Regions from separate parts of the Homo sapiens genome. Here regions 2 and 3 are each linked to region 1. Evidence: fine-mapped expression QTL. A gene starts in region 1. Each other region holds a variant in brackets. All regions are shown on one strand. Distances are from middle to middle.

Region 1 (8,184 bases):
TGGGCAAGTGAGACTCTGTGTCAAAAAAAAAAAAAAAGTTAAAAGAAAATAATGGAAACACTAATTGACTTGTTAATTACACTAAACAGTTGGATCAGAAAAGAGATCCACCAATAGAAACCCATGACTCCGTCACACACATTTTACTTATTTGAACTCACTTCACAAGTTTAAAGGAATCATAAGTTCATAGGAAGTGGAATGGAAAATTGGAAAGAGTACCCACTTTGGAGACAGGCAGATGTGAACTGGAATTCTGACCCTGCCAGGCCAGACATTTACTGAATTTTCTGAGCCTCCAGATTCTCATCTGTAAAATGAGGACAATGGTGTCCGCCATGTAGGGTTCTTCTGAGAATGTGTGCAAAATTCTTACCTTAGTGGGTATATCCCATCTTCAACAACAATAAAATGGTGGCCTACTAATGGTGGCATTAATATTCAATACATTTTATTGACTGTGTATTGAACACCATAATAAAATTAAAGATGAAACATTATCTCTGATCTTTATTTATTCTTTGTAGAAATGAGGCTGGTCTTGTACTCCTGGGCTCAAGCAATCCTCCCACCTCAGCCTCCCAAAGTGTTTAGATTACAGGCATGAGCCACCACGCCCAGCCTATCTCTGATTTTTAGATAGCTTTCTATTAGGAAGAGTAAAACTAAGATAATAATTGTAAAGATAACTAATACTCACTGGGTGTATACCATGGCCTACAAGTACTTTTAAGGGTTTATCTCAGTAAGTGCTTATAACATCCCCAGGACTTAGGCATTAACCAATTTTACAGATAAGGAAAATTTGTAACCCATTTTACAAACTAAGGCCTAGAGAGAATAGTAATTTTTACCAGATCCCTTAGGAAACAGCAGATTTAGGATTCACCTCTGGGCACCCTGTCTCTGGGGCTTGTTTGCAACACACTGATTTAGGTCTAGACTCAGGCAACAATTCATTTCTAGGTGCTGCAATCTCTGCTGTCAACTTGTGCTTCCCAGGTGCAAATATGAAACAAATCCCAACAGCATCATGGATATGAATCCCATTTAGATGTGACTATGATTATCACCTAAGTAGGCTGCCTGCCTGGTCTCTCTTTCTCTATGGCTAACCCATCCTTCTACACTGCCAACAGTTATCTTTATAAAACACAAATCTGATCGTGATACTTCTCTACTTAAAAGGCTCCCTGCTGTCTGCAGAACTGTGTCCAAGATCTTAGCATGGCACAGGAGGACTCTCCCAGCTGGCCCTGACCTTCCTTCCAGCCTCTGCTTTCTCTTCACCGTACACTCTTACATAAGACAGCTCCACGTGAAATTAGGGCAGCCAGGGGTGCCATAGTATAACTGCCTGTGTGGTAAAATGAAAAAAAGACTGAAAAAAAAACTTAAAAAAAATTGGCATATTTTCTTTACATATATTCTGTTGCTATAAAGTAAAAAAAACTTGCTAAAATTAGATTTTAAAAAAGCAGTGCAATTAACAATGTCCACATACCCACATACTATCAGCTGACACATGCATATACATATATTACAATTTTTTACATTATTTTTCACCATCTAGCAGAGATCTGGTATCTTAGTGGAAGATATCTTGTCACTCTATTTGCAATTCCTCTAGAGTATAACACTCTTCCTTTTCCCTGGAATGCATCCCTTTTCCTCCCTAAAGTTGCCAGCTACTTACTATTCATCCTTTAAATCCAGCTCAAAACCACTCCTCTGCGAACTCTTACACCCAATCCTCTTATGCAGTCTGTTTTTCCATCCCCAGTGCTCCCAAGACTGGGAGTATTTCTATCTCTTACAGCATTATTGTACTGCTTGTAATTATTTATTTATACAGTAATAGACTGCATGATCCTTTCCGGCAGTCTTAATCTTTGAATCCCTAGTTCCTAGCGTGGTGTTTGGCACAGAGTTAAGAACTGGAGAGCCGATCACTGGATACATGAAAGAATGATCAAAGTCTAAAAGTCCCTACTTTCTTTAGATCTTGTGGGGAAAACACTTGAGGGGATACACCTTTGGACACATCATTTTGATAAATCAGGCCCATAATATTTGAGAATTGATTTGAAAGGAGTCAGTAAATATCTCAAGTGGTGTGAGTCAAAAAGGCTAACAGAACCAGGTGTGGTGGCTGATGCTTGTAATCCCAGTGCTTTGGGAGGCTGAGGTCGGAGGATTTTCTTTTTTTTTTTTTTTTTTTTTTTTGAGAAGGAGTCTCCCTCTGTCGCCCAGGCTGGAGTGCAGTGGTGCAATCTTGGCTCACTGCAACCTCCACCTCCTGGGTTCAAGCGATTCTCCTGCCTCCGCCTCCTGAGTAGCTGGGATTATAGGCACATGCCACCATGCCCGGCTAAGTTTTATATTTTTAGTAGAGATGGGGTTTCACCATGTTGGCCAGGCTGGTCTCGGACTCTTGACCTTGTGATCTGCCCACCTCGGCCTCCCAAAGTGCTGGGATTACTGGTGTAAACCACCGTGCCCAGCCAGAATCTTTTGAGGCCAGGAGTTTGAGACCAGCCTGGGCCATAGAGCAAGGCTTCATCTCTACAAAAAAGTAAAAATAATAAAAAAAAATTTAAAAGGCTGGCAAGGATGGATTTAAAGTACTTAACACAACACCTGAACCATGCAAAGATGGCAAGGTAAATTCTTCGTTATATTGTTCAAAAAGAGACTAGAGTTTGAGACCAGCCTGGACAACATAGGGAGACCCCCGTCTGTACTAAAATGAAAACAAACAAACAAATAAAATAAAAAGAGACTAGACACGATAGATCTTGTAAAAGGTATCTATTAAAAACGTGGCCGGGCGCCGTGGCTCACACCTGTAATCCTACCACTTTGGGAGGCCGAGGTGAGCGGATCACTTGAGGTCAGGAGTTCAAGACCAGCCTGACCAACATGGCAAAACCCTGTTTCTACTAAAGATACAAAAATTACCCAGGCACGGTGGCGGGCGCCTGTAGTCACACCTACTCTGGAGGCTGAGCCAGGAGAATCACTTGAACCCGGGAGGCGGAGGTTGCAGTGAGCGGAGCTCGTGCCCCTGCACTCCAGCCTGGGCGAGAGTGAGACCCCGTCTCAAAAAAAACCCCCAAAAAACAAAATCAAAAAACAAAAACAAAAACAACCGTAAAAGTACTAAGTGCAATGTAGTGTCCTGTGTTGGATCTTGGAACAGAAAAAATGACACTAGTCGAAAAAATTGGTAAAATTGGAATAAAATCTGGAGTTTAGTAAATAAATAAGCTAACAACGCCGTTAAGTGTGACGTGTTTCCATACCATCGCTTTCCTACCATCCTAGCTTCCCTATCTACTGTAGGAATAGAGGATATGGTGTTCAAGGTGGGTGTTTTTCTCCGCCTCGATTGAAGAGCTTCGCGCTCTTTGGATTAACAGCCAGGTCATTCACAATTCAGTGTTCAGTTTTTCTATTGGGGTCCAGCGTCTCGGAGTAACATCCCTTTGTGTCATGGATACATCCAACTCTGGACTTCCCCATTAGATTCTGGCAAAAGCCCCACCAGAGCCCCCGCCAGAGCCAGAAGGCGGTCCCTCAGGTCAGGAAGGGGTTTTCCTGCCGCCGGAGCCGCGACCTCGGCTAGCGGTGGAGCGGGGCTTCGGCGGAGGGAGGTGCGGGGCCTCGGCGGAGGGAGGTGCCGGGGGCGCCGCCCACGGCCTCCTGGGCTCGGCGCGCGGGGCCGGGCTGCGGTTGGCCACAAGAGGCATCCATCTTCCCGGACCAGCCAGGCGTTTCCTAGCGGAGCAGGGGCGGGAGCTTGGACGGAGAAGGGCACAGGCCGGAGCGCGGTCCGCTCCCGCGAGCCTGGCCCCGCCTGGCGGAGCCCCGAGGAGCCACCGCCCGCAGATCGCTAGCCGGGCGCCCGCGAGGCGCGAGCCGTGTGCGCACCCTCAACTTTGCTGCCGCCGGGGGCGCGGCTCCCGCGTGCGTGTGCGAGTGTGCCTGTCACTAGCGGCCTCCTGGGGGCAGCAGCGGAAAGGGGGACGCAGAGAAAGGCAGCCTCGGCGCACCGCGGCCAGGGAGGCAGAGGCCCCTCGCGGCGCCGGCTCTGGAGACCTAAACTCCGCCGGGGCTGTGCCCAGGGCGCGTCTGAGCGTCGCCGCCTTCACCCTCTCAGCAGCAGCGGGGACTCGCGTCAGGACTGCGATTCCTTTCGCCTGCCGAGCTGTAGCGGCAGTGTCTGCGGGCAGAGGAGCGGCGGCCGTGGCAGCAGCATCCCCAGCCCGGGCGGGACCCTTGAGCGCCGGAGCCGACAGCTGGAGGCAGGAAGGGAGGGTTGTGGCGCCCGAGCTGGGCGCGTTCCCAGCGCCTGCCCTCCGCCGCTGGCCCTGTCCCGGGCGCCCGGTGCGGGTCTCGAACAATGGTGCGGAGCGCCGGCGCGAGCCCCGCGCCCGCCCAGCGGCCGTAGAGGAAGTGGCCGGGCTCCCGGCGAGGTGGGCAGGGAGACGTCCCCCGCCACTCGCTGGCTGGAGTTTGCCTGCGCGTCCGGCCTCTCCCCCGGGGATCCCCTGGGATTACCGACGGAGCTCAATTTCGAGAGTATGGTGCCAGCGCCCGGGCTAATCTAGTCCTCTCTACTCGCTCTTTTTCCCCTCCTCCTCCTACTTCTCCTCTCCCTCCTCCCTTCCCTCGGGTCGGCGCTGCCTCTGGATTGCCTGCGTGTGGGAGTACAACTCTGCCTCTCCAAGGAGAACGGGTTGTGACCACTGAACAAAACTTGCCCATTGAAAGCAAACCCGGAACAGCTGGATAATGTCCACCCCGAGCCGATTCAAGAAGGACAAAGAGATCATAGCCGAGTATGAAAGTCAAGTCAAAGGTAAGGATGGGAGCGGCTGCCTTGCTCCTTTTGTGTGCCTTCTTGTCATTGTGCTCGTGGAGTTGCGTATCTAACTTGGTGTCTGCGTGGGAGGAAGGTGGTGAGGGGACAGCTCGAGCCCTGTCTGAGCCACCTGGGCTTCCTACAAGCCAGTTAGTTCCCAGTTGCAATCCCAGTCCCGTCAAACCCACGGGGAGCTGGAAACTGGGTGACTTCCCCCGCCAGCTGCCAGCCCGCATCTCTAATGGGGAGAGAACTGGCTTTAACTTAACCACCTTCAGCTGGGCAACTTATGTGGGAAGCAGGCAGCAGTGGAGGATCCTGTCCAGCTATTATTATCACCATCATTATTCTTTTTAAATGGTAGGATTGTCACTACGTAATTTTTTTACGGAATGATTTTTGTAAAGTCTGTGAACCCCAAGCGGTCTACAGCCTCATTGAGTGCAGGCTATTTCAGATATTTACACCACTCACCTATTTACACCGCTCACAATTTATTAGGGCGAGACCCCTTTTATTAAATAGCTCCCTAAAAGCCTGGCAGTTAAACGAAGCAGTGACTAGTGGAATCTGACTCTTCCTTTATAATGGGCCAGAATTCATTGCCATCTTTCACACTCACATGGGAATATTGCTTTATCATTTTCTGGAAGCCACTTGCATGTAAAATGAAGGTTTGAATATTTGAGTAGTAGTTTCAGTCCATTTACATTGTCAACTAATGAAGGAAACCTAATTAAGGCTGATTATTTTTACTTTCTATGCCTTGTGATTAAAAATATATATATTTTCTCTCCAATACAAGTATTTTGTTTTGTTACTGAAGTGTTTCGTAAACATATGTGTTACTTGAATTTTTTCCTCCTCTTTCCTGAGGTCTCAGGAGTAGCTTTCCTGATTGAGACAATGGATGGAATGTTGGGACCGCCACTGTTCTTTGACACATTCAATGCAAAGTTCATAAAGATTGCTATGTATACACCTGTGTTTATCTATGCACAGTCTTATGAAAGGGCTACGGAGAGAGGCATTACTGTACTTCCCTTGAGCAAGGGAGGAGCAGCCTGAGTGTTCTTTTGTGTGGTCAAGTTGTAAAAATGCCTGGAGTCCTGTGAGAGGACCTGGTGGAGAAATCCTGTATCATCCAGTGTGAATACAGACCAACTCATTGTGGACACTGCAGACACAATATGCAAGATAACTTAGGTTATCTTTAGGAGGACCCCTATAATGGAGTTATCTATAGGCTGACCCCTATAATGTGTTCAGGAGACACAGATTTTTGTCTGCTTGGAATTGTGATAATTTATACTTACAGGAACTTGTTTCATTGCTATGGAAGTTGTGTTAGCAGATAAGTAATTATTTTCTTAGAGCCAGGTAAACTTTCTAATGAGACTAACCTTTCTTTTTTCAGTGAGTCCAACATAGCCTAAAACCTTTCATTCCAGGGCAGTACTCTTGTTCACAACCACCATTTCTCTGTGCAGTTTTTCCACATGGCTCTTTGTGGCAGGTCTTCAAGGGGTGGCGGTCTGGTTTTTCTGCCGCCTAGAGCACTAATTGGCAAATGCACTTCCAAATGTTGATTTCTTTATGTTTGCTGTAAGGTCACTTGCCAGTGATCAAGTCCTTATTTGAAAATCAGCGAAATGGGATGTGTTGCAATGTGTCTATCAAATTCAAACGGAAGAAAAATCATGAACATGGTGAAAATCACATTTGGAGCTAAGTCTGTCCCACAGAGAATGACCTTCTCCCTATTTCCTTCAACACTTCTTCCTTCCACACACCCACGAGTCCCTAGGCTGCTTTAGGAGTCTTCACTGCACCTGCCCTGCCCTGAGTCCAGGCTTTACCTCCTCCTGCAGTACCTACACATCCAGTATCTAACCTAGATCACTACATCCATACACAAACATGGGAATAAGGGAATATCATGGAGTCAGATCATATACGCATTAAATGGCACAAATTCACCTGGTACTTCTAGGCAAATCAAGAAGAGAGTGGGAGACAAATAACAGATAAATAGTACATGAGGCCAGCTGTCCAATGCAGGGAGAGTAGGCCCCTTAGTAAGGACAGCATGGGAGACAAGACTGGTTTTTCTGTACCCTCGCAGAGTGCTAGTCTGTTATTTACAGGTATGTGTTTTGGGATCAGGTGCAGTGGTGCATGCCTGTAATCTCCGCATTTCAGGAGGCTGAGGCAGGCGGATCACTTGGGGTTAGGGGTTCAAGACCAGCCTGGCCAACATTTTGGTAGAGAAACCACATCTTTACCAAAAAATACAAAAATTAGCTAGGTGTGGTGGCACACACCTGTGGTCCCAGTGTGCCTGTGGTTCCACTTGAACCCAGGAGGCAGAGGTTACAGTGAGCCGAAATCACATCACTGCACTCCAGTCTGGGTGACAGAGTGAGACTCTGTCTAATAAATAAATAAATAAATAAAGGTATATGTATTTGGAACAAACTACTTTTTAAATTACAGTCAGCAACTTTATCTGATGATAAAAAAAAATTCTGTTCTATTGCTAAAGGAAAACCTGACTGTGTGGGACTCATTAAGACATAAGTCTAGGCCAGGCACGGTGGCTCACGCCTGTAATCCCAGCACTTTGGGAGACCGAGGTGGGCGGATCACTTGAGGCCGAGACCAGCCTGGCCAACATGGTGAAACCCTGTCCCTACTAAAAATACAAAAATTAGCCGGACATGGTGGTGCATGCCTGTAGTCCCAGCTACCCTGGAGGCTGAGTCAGGAGAATTGCTTGAACCCGGGAGGCAGAAGTTGCAGTGAGCTGAAATTGCGCCACTGCACTCCAGCCTGGCTGACAGAGTGAGACTCTGTCTCAAGAAAAACACAATGAATAAACATACATATTGGACTCTATAGGTGACTTAGGTGTGTGGGTGATTTCAAGAGTCATTTTGATTATATGTATTTTTTTTTCTACCTTCTAACTTAGAACCTAACACTCTAGAATATTTTCCCCTGTTACTCTCTCCCATTTTCCCTAATAACAACTTTATTTATCTCAGAATTTTTGAGATAATGTTTTGACCTAAAGGAATGACTTCAGATATGGAATTTTTTTATTCTTTAATTTTTATTTTATATATATATATATATAAAAGGAGTATCGGTCTGCTGCCCAGGCCAGAGTGCAGTGGCGTGGTCTCGGCTCAGTGCAACCTCCACCTCCTGGGTTCAAGTGATTCTCCTGCCTCAGCCTCTGGAGTAGTTGGAATTATATACACGCACCACCACGCCCAGTTAATTTTTGTATTTTTAGTAGAGATGGGGTTTCG
Region 2 (8,184 bases), 290 kb after region 1:
TGTATCCCAGGCATAGAATAGAAGATGGAGGAGGATATTTCTTAAAATTCTAACAGTAGTTGTCTCTGGATGTTATATTATGGGTGATTATTTCAGTCTTTTTTGTATAACTGAAATTGCTGTTGTACCTGTAATGAAATTGTATTGCTTTTATAATGAAAAGAGAAAAGTTATTTTAATAAAAGAAGGGCTTTCATGCATAATGCTATTTCATACATAAATGCTATCACGTAAATTTTCATCTCCACTCATCTAGCAAATTTTGTAAAATTTGTAAATCTAGTAAATTTTGTCTCCATTCCTCTTACTGCTTCAGGGATGATACGTTTTCAGACACTCTGAGCCAAAAAGCCGACAGTGAGGCCAGCAGTGGGCCAGTCACGGAAGACAAGTCCTCATCCAAGGACATGAACTCCCCGACAGACCGTCATCCTGACGGCTATTTAGCCAGGTAAGTAGAGCCTGGGAATCAGGCCCCTAAGCCTCCGCTCCTCCTGGGGCCATGAGGAGCCACTGCACCTCAGCCTTGCAGTACTGCCCGGTGTGATAAGCTCTTCTGTTTTCTCCCTGTTTCTGTGAATGTCTAGGCAACGAAAAAGAGGAGAGCCACCCCCTCCAGTAAGGCGTCCTGGCAGGACCAGTGATGGCCATTGCCCGCTCCACCCTCCACATGCCCTTTCTAACTCCTCAGTTGACCTAGGGTCCCCAAGCCTTGCCAGTCACCCCCGGGGCCTGCTGCAGAACCGTGGCCTCAACAATGACAGTCCTGAGCGGAGGCGCAGGCCTGGCCATGGCAGCCTGACCAACATCAGCCGGCACGACTCCCTCAAGAAGATCGACAGCCCTCCCATTAGAAGGTCCACGTCATCAGGGCAATACACGGGCTTCAATGACCACAAGCCACTGGACCCAGAGACAATTGCTCAGGTACGATGCTTTTAATTACATATTGCATTTTAAGTACCTAAGTGTGATGTAGGAGGTGTGAAAGATTTACTTTATTTACTTTTTACTTTATTTACTTTATATTTCTGTATAGAACCAACTAAAGAAAACAGAAACAAAACCAGCTCATTCTTTAACTTAGGCCCTGAGTCTTTTTTGAACAATTTGTTACTGAAAGGGCCCAAAGGTTCATAGTGATTTAAACAGAAACATGACAAAAACGTAGGACCAGGACACTCAAACCTATCATTGTGAATAGCCAGAAAAACTTTGAAAAAGAAGAATGGGAAAGCAGTGGCCCTGCCAGATCCTAAATGCATTCTAAAGCTAGTAAAACAGACAGATGGATGAAACAGAATGGAGAGCCCAGAAACAGAAAAACCTTAAAACAGTAGTCCCTCCTTATCTGCAGGGCATATGTTTCAAGACCCCCAGTGGATGCCTGAAGCCACAGATAGTGCAAACCCCTACTGTATATGATAAAGATGGCACTTTCAACTTAGAAAAGATGAGACCTAATAAATAATGTGATCAATAATAGATAGATATTTGAAGAACAAGTCTGGATCCTATGTACCTCCTGAACACATTCAGGTCTTTGCTTCCCAACAGTGACTGCAGAGGGGCTGTGTAGTTTTCTTCTAATGACTAAAATTGACCAAGTAAAAGGGAAACAATACTAATAAATTTGCCCATCATTCTACCATTTTTCCCTCTGGTTCTGGCTCTTTTCACAGCACAGGCCATGAGAACATATGTTCGTAGGCCTAGTGGGTGGCTTACACCTGTAATCCCAACACTTTAGGAGGCTGAGGCAAGAAGATAGCTTGAGGTTAGGAGTTTGAGACAAGCCTGGTCAATATAGCAAAATCCCGTGTCTAAAAAAAAAAATTTTTTTTTAATTACCTAGGTATATTAGGATTCTCTAGAGGGACAGAATTAATGGAATATATATACATATAAAGGGGAGTTTATTAAGTATTAACTCACACAATCACAGAGTCCCACAATAGGCCATCTGCAGGCTGAGGAGCAAGGAGAGCCAGTCCAAGTTCCAAAACTGAAGAACTTGGAGTCTGATGTTCAAGGGCAGGAAGCATACAGCACGGGAGGAAGACGTAGGCTGGGAGGCTAGGCCAGTCTAACCTTTTCATGTTTTTCTGCCTGCTTTATGTTCACTGGCAGTTAATTAGATGGTGCCCATCCAGATTAAGGGTGGGTCTGCCTTCCCCAGCCCACTGACTCAAATGTTAATTTCCTCTGGCAACCCCCTCACAGACACACCCAGGAGTAACACTTTGCATCCTTCAATCCAATCAAGTTGACACTCAGTATTAACCATCACAAGTCTACCCCTTGTCAACTTGAACCCATAAACATCTCCTGAGATCGTACATAATCTTCAAATAAAAACAATAATGTCATAATTACGCCTAACATGATACAACTGTCCTTTCCTATAACCGGAAACACACCAATCCCCAACCCAAATGCTATTACATAAAGTTAACAATACTTAAATGCTGATAGGAAGTCAATATAATCTTATGTCACATGCTAAAGGAAAAAGGAAATAAAATGAAGATATTTTCCTAGTACAAGTGTATACATGCACAAACATGTTTTTAACGAAAGAAGGAAATACTCATGACAATTACAGTCCCTGTTTCCACGTGGTCATAGCTGGTATTGATGACTACCTTCTACTACCCATTCCGTATTCCCTTTGCCTTCAGCAAGCACCTCAGCAGGTCGTGGTTGTTGTTGTTGTTGTTGTTGTTGTTGTTGTTTTCCTGGCGGAGTGACCCAAACCTTCATTCCTGAAGGGTCTGGGCCATTTGTAGTCCTGCCTGGATTGGGCTATTGTAGTTTCCCATTGACCTTAATCACAGAGCGTGGTAATACTAAGAAACGCCCTAATGGATCTCCTGTATTCCATGCACACTCTTTTTTACCTGCATCGTGGAGTAGTCGACTGATTTCATCTTGATAGTCTGAGTCAGTCACCTTAGCCAACACTGTAACTCCCTTCTTAGTCTGTTGCCTTAAAGGTAGGAGGAGCCCAAAGTGTCCAGGTGGCAATCTTAACTCAATGGCATTGTTGCTGTGTCTCCTGGTGGCACATTCCTCCCTCTGGAACTGAGACCTCTAGGCCAGCAGAACATAATGTCGCGGGAACAGGAAGTAAAAATGTTGCTAGGGGGTCACTAGGGATAATGATGAATGGTGCCACTTCCACTTCCACCTCTTGATTCCTGGACCCGTGAATCCTGGCTATGGGAGAAACTGCACCATGTATTGGACACAGATTCAGAGCATACACAGCCTTCTGGGGAACTTTGCCCCAGCCCTGCAAAGTATTGTCACCTAGTTGGTGTTGCAATTGTGACATCACAAGACCAATCCACCATTCTGTCAATCCAGCTGCTTCAGGATGATAGGGAGCATGGTAAGACCCATGAATTCCATGAGCATGAGCCCACTGCCACTCTTCTTTAGCCATAAAGTAAGTGCCTTGGTCAGAGGTAATGCTGTGTGGAATACCATCATGGTGGATAAGGCATTCCATGAGTCACAGATGGTAGTCTTGGCAGAAGCATTGTGTGCAGGATAGGCAAACCCATATCCGGAGTAACTGTCTATTCCAGTGAGGACAAACCTCTGCCCTTTTCATGATGGAAGAGGTCCAGTGTAATCAACCTGCCACCAGGTAGCTGGCTGATCACCCTGAGGAATGGTGCCATATCGAGGGCTGTGTTGGCTTCTGCTGCTGGCAAATTGAGCACTAAGCAGTGGCCATAGCCAGGTCAGCCTTGGTGAGTGGAAGTCCATGTTGCTGAGCCCATGAGTAACCTCCATCCCTGCCACTATGGCCACTTTGTTCATGGGCCCATTGAGCAAGAACAGGGGTGGCTGGGGAAAGAGGCTGAATGGTGTCCACAGAATGGCTCATCCTATCCACTTGATTATCAAAATCCTCCTCTGCTGAGGTCACCCGTTGGTGAG[T/C]ACTCACATGGTATACAAATATCTTCACAGTTTTTGACCACTCAGAGAGGTCCATCCACATACCTCTTCCACAAATTTGTCACCAATTTTGCAATCATACTTCTTCTAAGTCCCTGACCATCCAGCCAAACCATTGGCTACAGTCCACGAATCAGTGTATAATCACACATCTGGCCATTCCTCCTTCCATGCAAAGTGCACAGCCAGGTGCACTGCTCGAAGTTCTGCCCACTGGGAAAGATTCCCTTCACCACTGTCCTTCAGGGATGTCCTAGAAAGGGGCTGTAGTGCTGCAGCTGTCCACTTTCGGGTGGTGCCTGCATATCATGCAGAACCGTCTGTGAACCAGGCCCTAGTCTTCTCTTCCTCTGTCAAGTGATCATAGGGAACTCCCCATGAGGCCATCAGTGCAGCCTGGGCATTTGAGCCACTTCCTCATGTAACTTATGCCTTCAGGAGTTGCATGAGCTCGATCACATATATACCACTTCCATTTGATGATGGAATGCTGCTGTGCACGACCCGCTTTATGGCTAGATGTGTCAGAAAGCACCCAGTTCATAATAGGCAGTTCAGGTTGCATGGTGACTTGATGACCCATGGTCAAACGTTCAGTTTCCACCAAAGCCCAGTAACAGGCCAAGAGCTGTCTCTCAAAAGGAGAGTAGTTGGCCAGGCGCAGTGGCTCATGCCTGTAATCCCAGCACTTTGGGAAGCCAAGGCGGGTAGATCACGAGGTCAGGAGTTCAAGACCAGCCTGACCAATATGGTGAAACCCGATCTCTACTAAAAATGCAAAAATTAGCCAAGTGTGGTGGCACACGCCTGTAGTCCCAACTACTCGGGAGGTTGAGGCAGAAGAATCATTTGAACCAGAGAGGTGACGTTGCAGTGAGCCAAGATCACGCCACTGCACTCCAGCCTGGGTGACAGACAGAGACTCCATCTCAAAAAGAAAAGGAGAGCAGTTATCTGCAGAAGAAGGCAGGGCCTTGCTCCAAAATCCTAGAGGCCTCCGCTGTGATTCACCTATGGGGGCCTGCCAAAGGCTCTAAACAGCATCCCTATCTGCCACTGACACCTCAAGCACCATTGGATCTGATGGGTCATATGGCCCAAGTGGCAGAGCAGCTTGCACAGCAGCCTGGACCTGTTGCAGAGCCTTCTCCTGTTCTGGACCCCACTCAAAACTGGCAGCCTTTTGAGTCACTCGATAAATGGGCCAGAGTAACACACCCAAAAGAGGAACGTGTTGCCTCCAAAATCCAAATAGGCCCACTAGGCGTTGTGCCTCTTTCTTGTTTGCAGGAGGGGCCAAACGCAGCAACTTATCCTTCATCTTAGAAGGAATATCTTGATAGGCCCCACACCACTGGACCTCTAAAAATTTTACTGAGGTAGAAGGTCCCTGAATTTTAGTCAGATTTATTTCCCATCCTCTAGCACACAAATGTCTCACCAATAAGTCCAGTGTGTTTGCTACTTCTTGCTCACTGGATCCAGTCAGCATAATGTCATCAATGTAATGGACCAGTGTAATATCTTGCGGAAGCAAAAAGCAATCAAGGTCTCTCCGAGTAAGATTATGACACAAAGCCAGAGAGTTGCTATACCCCTGAGGTAGGACAGTAAAGGTATATTGCTGGCCTTGCCAGCTGAAAGCAAATTACTTCTGGTGGGCCTTATGGACAAGAATGGAGAAAAAGGCATTTTCCAAGTCAGTGGCTCCAATCCACATACCAGGAGATGTGTTAATTTGCTCAAGCAATGAAACCACATCTGGTACAGCAGCTGCACTTGGAGTCACCACTTGGTTAAGCTTACAATAATCCACTGTCATTCTCCAGAATCCATCTGTCTTCTGCACAGGCCAAATGGGAGAGTTGAATGAGGATGTGGTGGGAATCACCACCCCTGCATCTTTCAAGTCCTTGATGGTGGCATTAATCTCTACAGTCCCTCCAGGGATGCAATATTGTTTTTAATTTACTATTTTTCTAGGTAAAGCCTGCTCTAATGGCTTCCATTTGGCCTTTCCCACCATAATAGCCCCCACCCTACCAGTCCAGAGCCAATGTGGGGGTTCTGCCAGCTGCTAAGTATGTCTGTGCCAATTATGCATTCTGGCACTGGGGAAATGACCACAGGAGAAGTCTGGGGACCCATTAGACTCACTGTAAGTCAGACCTGAGCTAAAACTCCATTAATTACCTGACCTCCACAAGCCACTACTTTAACTGGAGCACCACAACGACATTTTGGGTCCCCTGGAATCAGTGTCAGCTCAGAGCCAGTGTCCATTAGTCCCCAAAATGTCTGATCATTTCCCTTTCCCCATTACACAGTTACCCTGGTAAAAGGCTGGAGGTCCCCTTGGGGAAGGATGGGATAAAGATTCACTGCATAAATTGTCAGTAATATAGCGGGGTCCTTCCTCAAAGGGACCTGGCCTCCTCTTCATTCAAGGGGTTCTGGGTCTGTAAACTGGGTCAAGTCTGGAAATTGATTGAGGGGCCATGATTCTCTGTTTTCATAATTCAAATTAGTCTTTTGTCCATCCAACCTAGAAGTTTTCTGCTTGTGTAAATTAAGTAGGAATGCAGTAGGCTTCCTATCAATTTCACTTTTAGGAACAACGTGATTAATTAGCCAATGCCAGAGTTCTACACGAGTCAGACTATTCTGCTTGCTGCTTTGCCTCTGCTGTGCATTACTGTAGCTATGCCCACCTTGCCTTTGATGATTGAGTGTCGCCTTGCCTTTGATGATTGAGTGTTGCCACTTGGCTCCTGCTACCTTGGGATCCAATTATCTCCATTGTATTTAAATTTTGTAGTTGAGTGACTGTGGTTCCCACCGTTAGATCTGACATACAGAGAACAGCAATTACAGGGCTCTTCAAAGATGCAAGTGCTGGCCAAGTGCGGTGGCTCATGCCTATAATCTCAGCACTTTGGGAGGCCAAGGCAGGCAGATCACGGGGTCAGGAGATTGAGACCATCCTGGCTAACATGGTGAAACCCCGTCTCTACTAAAAATCTAAAAAATTAGCTGGGAGTGGTGGTGGGTGCCTGTAGTCCCAGCTACTTGGGAGGCTGAGGCAGGAGAATGGCGTGAACCCGGGAGGCAGAGCTTGCAGTGAGCCAAGATTGCGCCACTGCACTCTAGCCTGAGCGACACAGCAAGACTCCATCTCAAAAAAAAAAAAAAAGATGCAAGTGCTGCTCTCACAAATCTGTTTTGCAAGGCATTGGTCAAGGACTCTCCCAGCTGGGATGAGTAAGTCTAAAGTGACTAATCCACTCCACCATCCCAATCTCCCTAAGCCTTTGGATCCCTTCCTCTACATTAAACCAAGGGAGAGCAGGCATTTTCAGCTCACTCACAGTGCTCACAGTGGGCCATCTTTCAATCCATATTTCAGTTAACCAAGCAAATAAACTATTAGAACCTTTTTTAACTCCCCGAGCTGCAACATTAAATGCAGAGCTCCTACTTAATGGGCCCAAATCAATAAATTCAGCCTGATCTGACTCTATGTTCCATCTACCATTATCCCACACCATTAATATCCATTCCCATGCCTGTTATCCAGATTTCTATTTATATAAATTAGAAAACTCAAGCAGTTCTTTTCTAGTGTGGCACACCTCTTCATGGGTCACACTCTCAACCTCACCTCCAGGGGCCTGCCGGGATATTAGTCTAGTTACAGGTCTAGAAGCAAACAGAAGTGTTGGAGGTGGCTCCTGAGGAGAGTCAACATTATCTTGCCTGGCAGCTGCCTCATGGGAGGCCATCACCATTGCCTCAGGCAGCACAGGGTTTATCTCCTCAGACAAAGGTGGAAAGGCTGATGGCAGCATGGGTCAGGGAGGGGATGTTGCCGCTACTGGGGATAGGGAAGCTGTTTCTTCTGGCAAAAAAGGTTCATCAGGGTTTACAAACTCAGTGCCCCCAGCTTCATCAGGGTCCTCCCACACATCCCCATTCCAAGTTGCAGGGTCCCATTCTTTTCTAATCAATGCCCTCACTTTAACAGTAGACACCTGGTGAGGCTGTGCATGTATCTTTCATTGCAGGTCAGCGACTTGCATAAGAACTCGTGTCTGGTTCTCCATAATTTTAGTTCTTTATCTGTGGGAGATAAGACTCACACTCAGGGCAGTCTTAGCAGATTTGAGGTTCAGTATCTGCTTCTGAAGCCAGGAGATAGAATCCTTGAGTTCATCA
Region 3 (8,184 bases), 250 kb after region 1:
CTGCTGATTCCTTTCAGTTTACTTACTTTAAATTTTTTTCCTGCAGGTCATAGAGCTGAATATATGACTACAAGGTAGGAAAATATTTTATCATAACTTATAGCGTATTTTACTTTCTCTTTAACAAGAAGCAACCATTTCAATGCTGAAAGAATTAACATTTTGTTAATGAATACGGGAGATAGTTTTGGCTTGACAAAGCATAGCAACATGAAATGTTTGGGCTTCTTACAAGACTAGGTATGTTCTAGCTTATTTTTGTTTCCCTCTGGAATTGTAAAGCTCTTTAATAGGCAGAGACAGTAACAAAAACCTAAGTTAAACCGGCTTGGTTTATCTAATCCAGAATACTTTAACTGTTTCTAAATAGCGTGACAGGACTTTTGATTTGATAGTTTAATTAAAAAAAAAATACGACGTGTACATCTACTGCATAAGTAAGTAGAAAGTACAATTATTTTCTGTTCCTATTTTCCTTTAGTCATATAAACATTAGAGCTGGCCGGGTGCAGTGGCTCAGCCTGTAATCCCAGCACTTTGGGAGACTGAGGCGGGTGGATCACCTGAGGTCAGGAGCTCACGACCAGCCTGGCCAATGTGGTGAAACCCTGTCTCTACTAAAAATACCAAAAAATTAGCCGGGCGTGGTGGTGTGCGCCTGTAATCCCAGCTACTCAGGAGGCTGGGGCAGGAAAATCACTTGAACCCGGCAGGCGGAGGTTGCAGTGAGCCAAGATTGCGCCACCACACTCCAGCCTGGGCAAGAGCGAGACTCCATCTCAAAAAATAAAAATAAAAAATAAAAATAAAAATTTGAGCTATATTGAATATCTTTAGGATTTTAGCTGTCTATATATTCTCCATTTTGATTCACTTTAAACATTTAACTTTTAACACATACTCCCATATTGTACTTTCTTCATTCAGGGGAGGATTGTGAAGCTACTACAAGAAAGGAAAGCCATTTGGGCAGCAGATTCTGATTTGGGTTCGGGAAAGTTTGTGGCAACTTTTATTTTTCTATGTCACCATTTGTGCAACAGACAGAAATTATCTAATTAGCATAGCAAGATGTTGCATTTTTGAAATTGAGTTCTCTTTGAAATAAGACGCATTTAGAACACTGGTATATCTGCTGCAGTAATTGGCAAGTTGACTTTCAAGGATCTATAATGTTATTGCTGGGCAGCTTATTCATAAGGAAGCCCCTCGTACTTCATGGTAAACCAACTAGAAAGATACAGCTCCTGACTTTTCCAAACCTAACAAAAGAAAAAAACACTGAGGTTTTTCTTCACTGTGTCAGTGAAAAAGAAGACTATTACCTCGACCTGGTAATATGCAGCTTATAGAGATGTTTTTCACCTATAGCATCTCCTTGCACTATCAATTATTTTACCTGTTGTTTCTCAATTATAATTACTGTAAGGCACTTCAAAAAAAGAGATTTTTTTAAAAAGCAGAAATGGAAATATATTAATTTGCCATGAGAGCTATAATTGCCAAATAGACTAGATATTCACATCAACCTGACCAGTACTTCCTCTCATGTGGGCATCCTCTGTAGGAAACCAAATTATCAGGAAGTCATGTGGTAGCCACAGAATCAGAATGAGTCACGCAATTGGAATGTTGAACGTCCCTGGCTCTGTTCACTTGATGTGGGTGTAGCAGAGCAAGAATCATCAGACCTCTGCCATGGAAATTACTTTGATAAGCACTGAGGCAATTCGTTTTCATTCCAGGTTCCTCTCACAACTTGCATGCGTTCATATTTACCGTACTATAGAATCCTACAGAGGTGATTTTCAGGCCTTTCATAGAAGACTCAAAAGATATCCCTCCATTAGCCAGCATTACCCTGCGTCTCCCAGTCATGCGGGGACAATGATTCAGTGCATTGGAGGTTTTTGGCTCCGTCTACAAGATTGGCTTGCTCCGTGAATCAGTGACCAAACAAAATTCTAATCTGCTTAGCTTTGTCAGCTTCTCCAGATATCACCAGATGTGAAGCTCTCTTGGACCTTATTGTAATAACCACATTTTCTAGTTTTTTAATGCTTTGGTATATTGGGGACTTTCTGACCCCAGAAGTACTGCCCCTCCCGGGATTAGCCAATTCCTAGCAGTAGTAGTAAGAACTGGCTTGCCAAGTGTGCCTTTTGTATGCAAGCCAGGTGATCCAGACGACCTACCTCCAACCACCTCCTTCATGGTTCTGACACTCACGGCCACTATTCCCCTTCCCTAATCACCCCAAGGCCAGGTATAGGACAACTTAGGGATAGTCCCTATGCCCCAAAGCCCACTGGAATCATTCCAACTAGCCTATTCTAAACCTGCTTGCCCAGCTTCTCCCATTCCCTCCAGTGGGAACCACAATAAAGACTCCTGCCCACATTTTCCTTTGTGCCTTCTGCCTCCTGACCCACCCCGGTGCTTCCTTCTGTGGCCTCCCTGGTGGTGGGGCACATCCCCAACTCTTTAACAAACTATCTTTTCAGTGGTAGTTGTCTCCTGAACGTTGGCCTCCCCGTACCTGAATAAAAATGAAATCCACACTTTAAAACACTTTTAAAATAGTGAAAGGAGTGGATGAAATCAAGTATGTAGGGTTAAATGCTTTGGTGGTTGGTTGTTTTGTTCTTTTTACTCCTATCAGATTATTTCCTCCATGAATGGCCAGAACTCAGTGTATAAAAGAGATCTCAGAAATTTCATCCGTGGCAGGAGATGACATGTTGCCTGGTAGAAGTTTCCATATTCTCTCCTAGACACTTGCAAAGGCTTCTTTTAACCTCGCCAGCACTGTAGAACTTCAGGTGCTGCTTGCTGTGCACCTTGTTCATCATATGAGCCCATCTGCTGGGAGGGTCTTAGAATTTAGCTGTGGAAGGCTGTACCAGTAGGTTTGTTTCCATACATGATAGTGTCTAAGGAAGCTAGTCAGGCTTCCACGTAACTTCTTGGGATCTGGTATATGAACCAGACTTTCTGAACTTAAGCTAAATGAACTAAAAAAGATAAATTTTCCTAGAGTCTGAAGCTTAATGAAGGGCTTTACACAATTTCCTGGTGTGGTGTGTATCCTCCTATAAGTCTTGCAGTTAAAAAGGAGTTTTACATTAAAACATCCAGAGACAGGTCTCAGGGCTCTCCTTCCATGTATTTCATTCAGCACAGTAGTAGAAGTTGAGTCAGGTAATTCTGGCCTTCTTTCCACTAAAGGGAGAGAGCAGAAGAGGTTCCCTCTCTGCAGTCACAGGGCAAGATGTCACAGTTTCTAAATATACTACATGCTGCACTAGATGTGCATATGTCAGAGAGAATGGTTTATTCACCAGAGCAAATGGGCAGACTGGAGAGGAAGAGAGTCTGCAGTGGCATAAACAAGTACATCCTCAGATATTTAGGTGGTGGAATAGTTTGTTCTAAAGAAATAATAACTCATGCGAGCCTGTATGTCCCCCAAATTAGAAAAAGCAGTGAACCCAAATTATTTTTCTCACTTGTGACCTATTAATAGTTACTTTTGCATGAAATAAAATTCCATTACTGCTGGAGGGGTATCGAACAGATGTGATGTTACTTGCATTGGTTTGCTGGGCTGAGTGAGGTGGCTCACGCCTATAATTCCAGCACTTTGGGAGGCCAAGGTGGAAGGATCTTTTGAGCCCAGGAGTTCAAGACCAGCCTGGAAAACACAGGGGGACTCCGTCTCTATAAAAAATTTAAAAATTAGCTGGGCATGATGGCATGCGCCTGTAGTCCTAGCTACTTGGGCTGAGGTGGGAGGATCCCTTGAGCCCAGAAGAAGGTGGAGGCTGCAGTGAGCCATGATCATTCCACTACACTCCAGCCTGGGTAACAGAGCAAGACTCTGACTTAAAAAAAAAAATTATGTGTACCTAAAAATGTTATATTTAATTCCTCATTTGGGGATCTACCGGAGCCCTAATCTTTATGACCGGTTGTATCTTACTGTGTGACTTGTAAACCAAATAACAAGAATGCTGGTTTGTAACATTTGGCCAAATAGCTAACGAGTCTACTTGGTAGTGCTTATTTTAAAACAAACCAGCAAACAAACAAATGTCAGCTGCAGCATACAGGGAAACAGCAGTGTGAATAAACAATTTGTATGTTTTTTGATACAGAAGTGAAAGTAAATAAATGGGAAATGGGAGGGAATGTTTTCCCCTGTGATTGGGGGAGGGGAAGGAACCCAAGATTCCCGTGTTTTGTAATATTGATGTGACCTATAGATGTTTCATTTATTGTTTGATTTCTGCCATGCTCAGTAATTATATTCCCTTCCCTTAGGCCTCCAAATGTTCCCCCTAAGCCCCAGAAACACAGGAAGTCCAGGCCCCGCTCACAGTATAATACTAAGTTGTTTAATGGGGATTTGGAAACATTCGTCAAGGTACTGGCACCAGCCATCTGGGTGGCTGATCTCCATGCTTCTTACTATAATGGTCTCAGCCTCTTGTAAGAGGAGGAAGGTCATTATGTCCAAGTCTGTCCTGGGGCTCTTTGCTTTCCCAGAAAATCAATATAATATTTCCTGAAGTCAGAGAGGAAAGAATATTTGGGTCGAGTGCCTTCAGAAGAGAGAATAAATGTG[A/G]GTATTATTATGTGGGCATAAAAGAAAGCCCTCTTTCTTTATTTTTTTAAAAAGAGCCATAATTTGTACAGAAAGTTAAAAAGCAACCTGATAAAAATGTTGTATTTTTACTCATGCAAATGAGATGGCACAAAATATTCTTTAAAGTCTGCTTGTTAGGATAGCTCTGAAACACAGCAGGAGTTTTGATTTCCCATGACTTGAGGAATTCATTATATTGAATGAATTGTAAGACTATGATCTATACCTTGTACCTCTGCTGTGTTTACTCTTCGTCTTCTTTTTCATCCTGTATTTCTGATAATGCTTCTAGCCGAGGACGAAGAAACTCGCACACAAGACATCAGGTATAGTGCTAGAGGGACGTGAGGGTGCTCTTTCACTGTTGGTATCATTTTCAAGTCGTGCTCATGCTTGGCTTTAATTAGATTGTTAAGGTTTTTAAAAGAAAAATGTTTGCATTTGGAAATCAGACAAGTTTATAAATAGGTTTTACTTAGAAACTGTAGCAATCAAACACTAGAGGAAAAATGGGCACATTAAACTATTAGTTTTTACATTATGTGTTTGGCAAATGTATCAAGTTTGATCAAGGGCTTTATTAGGGAAAGTCAATGTTAAATACCAAATACACATTTAATACTGGATTATGGACCCTAGTGTGAATTTTACAAAAAAGAAAAGGGCTTGCTTTCTCCTTTGTAGTTCACATTTTATGGCATGGGCTGCGGTGTTTCTGCAAACTAAGTTTATCTGAGAAACCATGTCATTAATAACCTCCCTTAATGATATATTACAGACGTCTTACTTTCTTAGGTCTGTTTATTGAATATGTGTACTAATAATTAAATAAATGTGCATGTGGCATGTATAAGGACATACATACATATATACATACATACATACATACATACATACATACATATGTACATAGATTAAAAACCTCTGGCAGCCTTAAAAATCAGCCCTACTCTGGAATTAAGTGGAAAGCCACTGAAGAACCTAAATAGCAGTTACAGATCTACTGCCTTAAGCCTTAAATCCAGAAGAACCTTATTGGCTCTAATTTAATATAAAATTATTGTCAAATTTGATTACCTATTTTCCCAGCCCCTGGCTTATAAGCAGGGACAAATTATATGGAGAGAGAGGAACGATAAAATGAAAGCAATGAGATATGCAGCTGATGGCCTGGCAGAGAAAGAGAATATAGAAAAGCTGCAAGAAGCAGACGTAGGATTCTGTTGTATTTGATAATACAGTACGAGAATGGCTGCTTAAGATGATAGAAAAGCACATATTACATATTTTTTCAATTTTTCATTAAGAGCAGTTAAATGAAAGTAAATTGAGGTACCAAAGAATAAATAAACCAGCTATCATGGAAAATTCACTTATAGGAGCTCTTCACAGCCCAGATGGCACATTGAAGAATCTTTGGTAATAGAAACAATACAGAGGGCTCCTTTCCACTTCTAAAAAGGGCTTGATCACTTGCAATCTCCACAATGTCACTGTGAAGACAGCAAGAGCAAAACCATTTTTTCTCTTTTTTCTCTTGGGAAAACCGACACCAAGGGATTAGTTTGAATGATAGATGGAATGCACCCCCATTGTTCTTATAAAATATTTTCTTATGTTTTCTACCCATGCATCTGAAATCTGTAAAATTAAATTAAATTAAATCACATATACTCATTACTTTTTGACTACAAAATTAATTATATCTGAATGAAATACTGATCATAGCTTTTTTAAAAAGCAATTAGTAAATGTAAACACAAAAACATTTTTTAAAAATATGAAAACCGAAGACATTTTTTATTGAGAACTTTCTTAGTGCAAACATTTTCCTTTTCATAACCTTGTATTCTTTGCTTTTCTTTTTAATACTAAATTCAGCAGAGATGTAAACTAATGATCTCTTTTTATCACTTACATTTAAAAATATGTTGCTTTCAGATTAGTGTTCCATGAATTGTTCGTATAGTTTACTTCCCCTAAAACACTTATATCTTAAAGAAAAATCCTTTCACATATTCAGTAAGTTATGATGTAATTACATTGCTGTTCCTGAGCCAACTAGTCCACACTAAAATGCGTTTTTATTCTTAAGACTCTTCTTTAAGAAATTAATAAAATTTGTGCTCCTAAAACAAATTAACTAATTAGAAAAACTTAATACAGTCTCCAGAAGTAATTGAGCCATTAACTGGTTTATACACTGATTAGATTGTGTTAAAACCTAAAATAAGACAATTCCTTAAGAAGTATAATACCCATTCCAGGAATAGTAAAGCGTTTAAATTGCTGAACTGCATTATTCTTAATCCTTCCCCCACTGCTTAATTGGAAAGGTTAATGGATTCTGAATTGTTCTAATATATTAAGACAACCAACTTTTTCTTGCATTTCAAAATAAAATTCCTCACGAATTAATACCTGATGTCAGCTAACCATTTTCGAGCCCTGTGGTTTTGTTTTTTTGGCTTTCTTTTTAAAAAAGATCTAATTCCTGAAAAAGCAGAGTCTTAAAAACACATGAAAAATAATTCTGTAGTCAGTAACCTTCTTTAACTTCATGGAGTACATGGCATTGGTACATATTTAACTGTGGCCTCAGCAGCCCTTCATCTCATTTGTCATCCTATACATGTTTTAAAACACTGCCACGGTTTACATTTGTTCAGTAGAAGGCAGTGACTGTTTTACAAGATGTGGGGAAAGAAGGCCCAAAAATGTTCCTTTCTAAAAAAACAAATCTGCGATATACAGTTGTGCCATTTTTTTCTTATTCCTTAAAATATGACAATGTATGAATGAAAAATCTGTAAGTTCTGATGCAAACTAAGTAAATACATGTTTTAATTATCTCTGTAACAATTCTCATATTATGCATCTATAGATATATAGATATGGAAGCCCTTTTATGACTTGTCATCTAGGTGATGCACTCTCAGGGATGTCAGAGAGAGAATCCTGAGATGGCTGAAAGGTTGTCTTTCATGATGAATATAGCGAATCAAACTGAAGATGCTATGATTATAATACACAGAGTTCTTTTTAAGTCCATTAAAGATTGGTCACTTGTATAAATAAGCTTTTAAAAATGAGTTATTCACATATTCATTTTGGTATGTAAGTCTTAATATAAGAAAAGAGATGAATTAGGTTTTGACATCTCTAGGCACAGCAAAGTAAGTTGAAACAGAATTGCCTTAAATGTATTTAACTTGGTTTGCTCCAGAACTGCAAAAATCCCTCTTTAATTACTGTTAAACTCTAAGCCTTATTATTATGAGGCATTTATACCTCTCCCTTGAGGTTAACTGGTTTCCATCCCTTTACCCAGGACTCAGGACAGGTTATTCCCCTCATTGTGGAAAGCTGTATTCGGTTCATCAATCTCTATGGTAAGCCATAAACTACAGAATTCTTATTTTTTAAAAAATCACTTGAAGTGTTTCAGTAAATTTACTTCCTGGGAAAAGAGGGACCTAGACAATGTGATGGGGGTTTTATCCTCTTTCCCTTCTTTTCTCTTTAGGTCTTCAGCA

What was found.
Region 2: its variant is fine-mapped to the expression of SRGAP1 in testis (GTEx, PIP 0.97).
Region 3: its variant is fine-mapped to the expression of SRGAP1 in subcutaneous fat (GTEx, PIP above 0.99). The same link has a PIP of 0.9 or more in aorta, atrial appendage, breast, esophagus muscle, fibroblasts and lung.

What each region holds. Positions count from the first base shown.
Region 1 is chr12:63,840,020-63,848,203 of GRCh38, forward strand. It overlaps SRGAP1 (SLIT-ROBO Rho GTPase activating protein 1), which reads left to right and starts at 4,681. Exons shown (of 22, transcript NM_020762.4): 1 at 4,681-4,864. The coding sequence starts at 4,798. RefSeq lists silencers at 3,614-4,033, 4,094-4,153, 4,264-4,523 and enhancers at 3,686-4,187, 4,188-4,687.
Region 2 is chr12:64,127,274-64,135,457 of GRCh38, forward strand. SRGAP1 (SLIT-ROBO Rho GTPase activating protein 1) reads left to right here. Exons shown (of 22, transcript NM_020762.4): 20 at 317-451; 21 at 588-927. It overlaps LOC105369798 (a long non-coding RNA gene), which reads right to left and starts at 3,459. Exons shown (of 2, transcript XR_945018.2): 1 at 2,901-3,459. The variant T/C (reference allele first, on the strand shown) is at 3,952.
Region 3 is chr12:64,086,953-64,095,136 of GRCh38, forward strand. SRGAP1 (SLIT-ROBO Rho GTPase activating protein 1) reads left to right here. Exons shown (of 22, transcript NM_020762.4): 11 at 47-74; 12 at 4,324-4,426; 13 at 7,980-8,040; 14 at 8,175-8,184. Among named protein-coding and RNA genes, the nearest start is that of KICS2, 130 kb to the right of the region's middle. The variant A/G (reference allele first, on the strand shown) is at 4,628.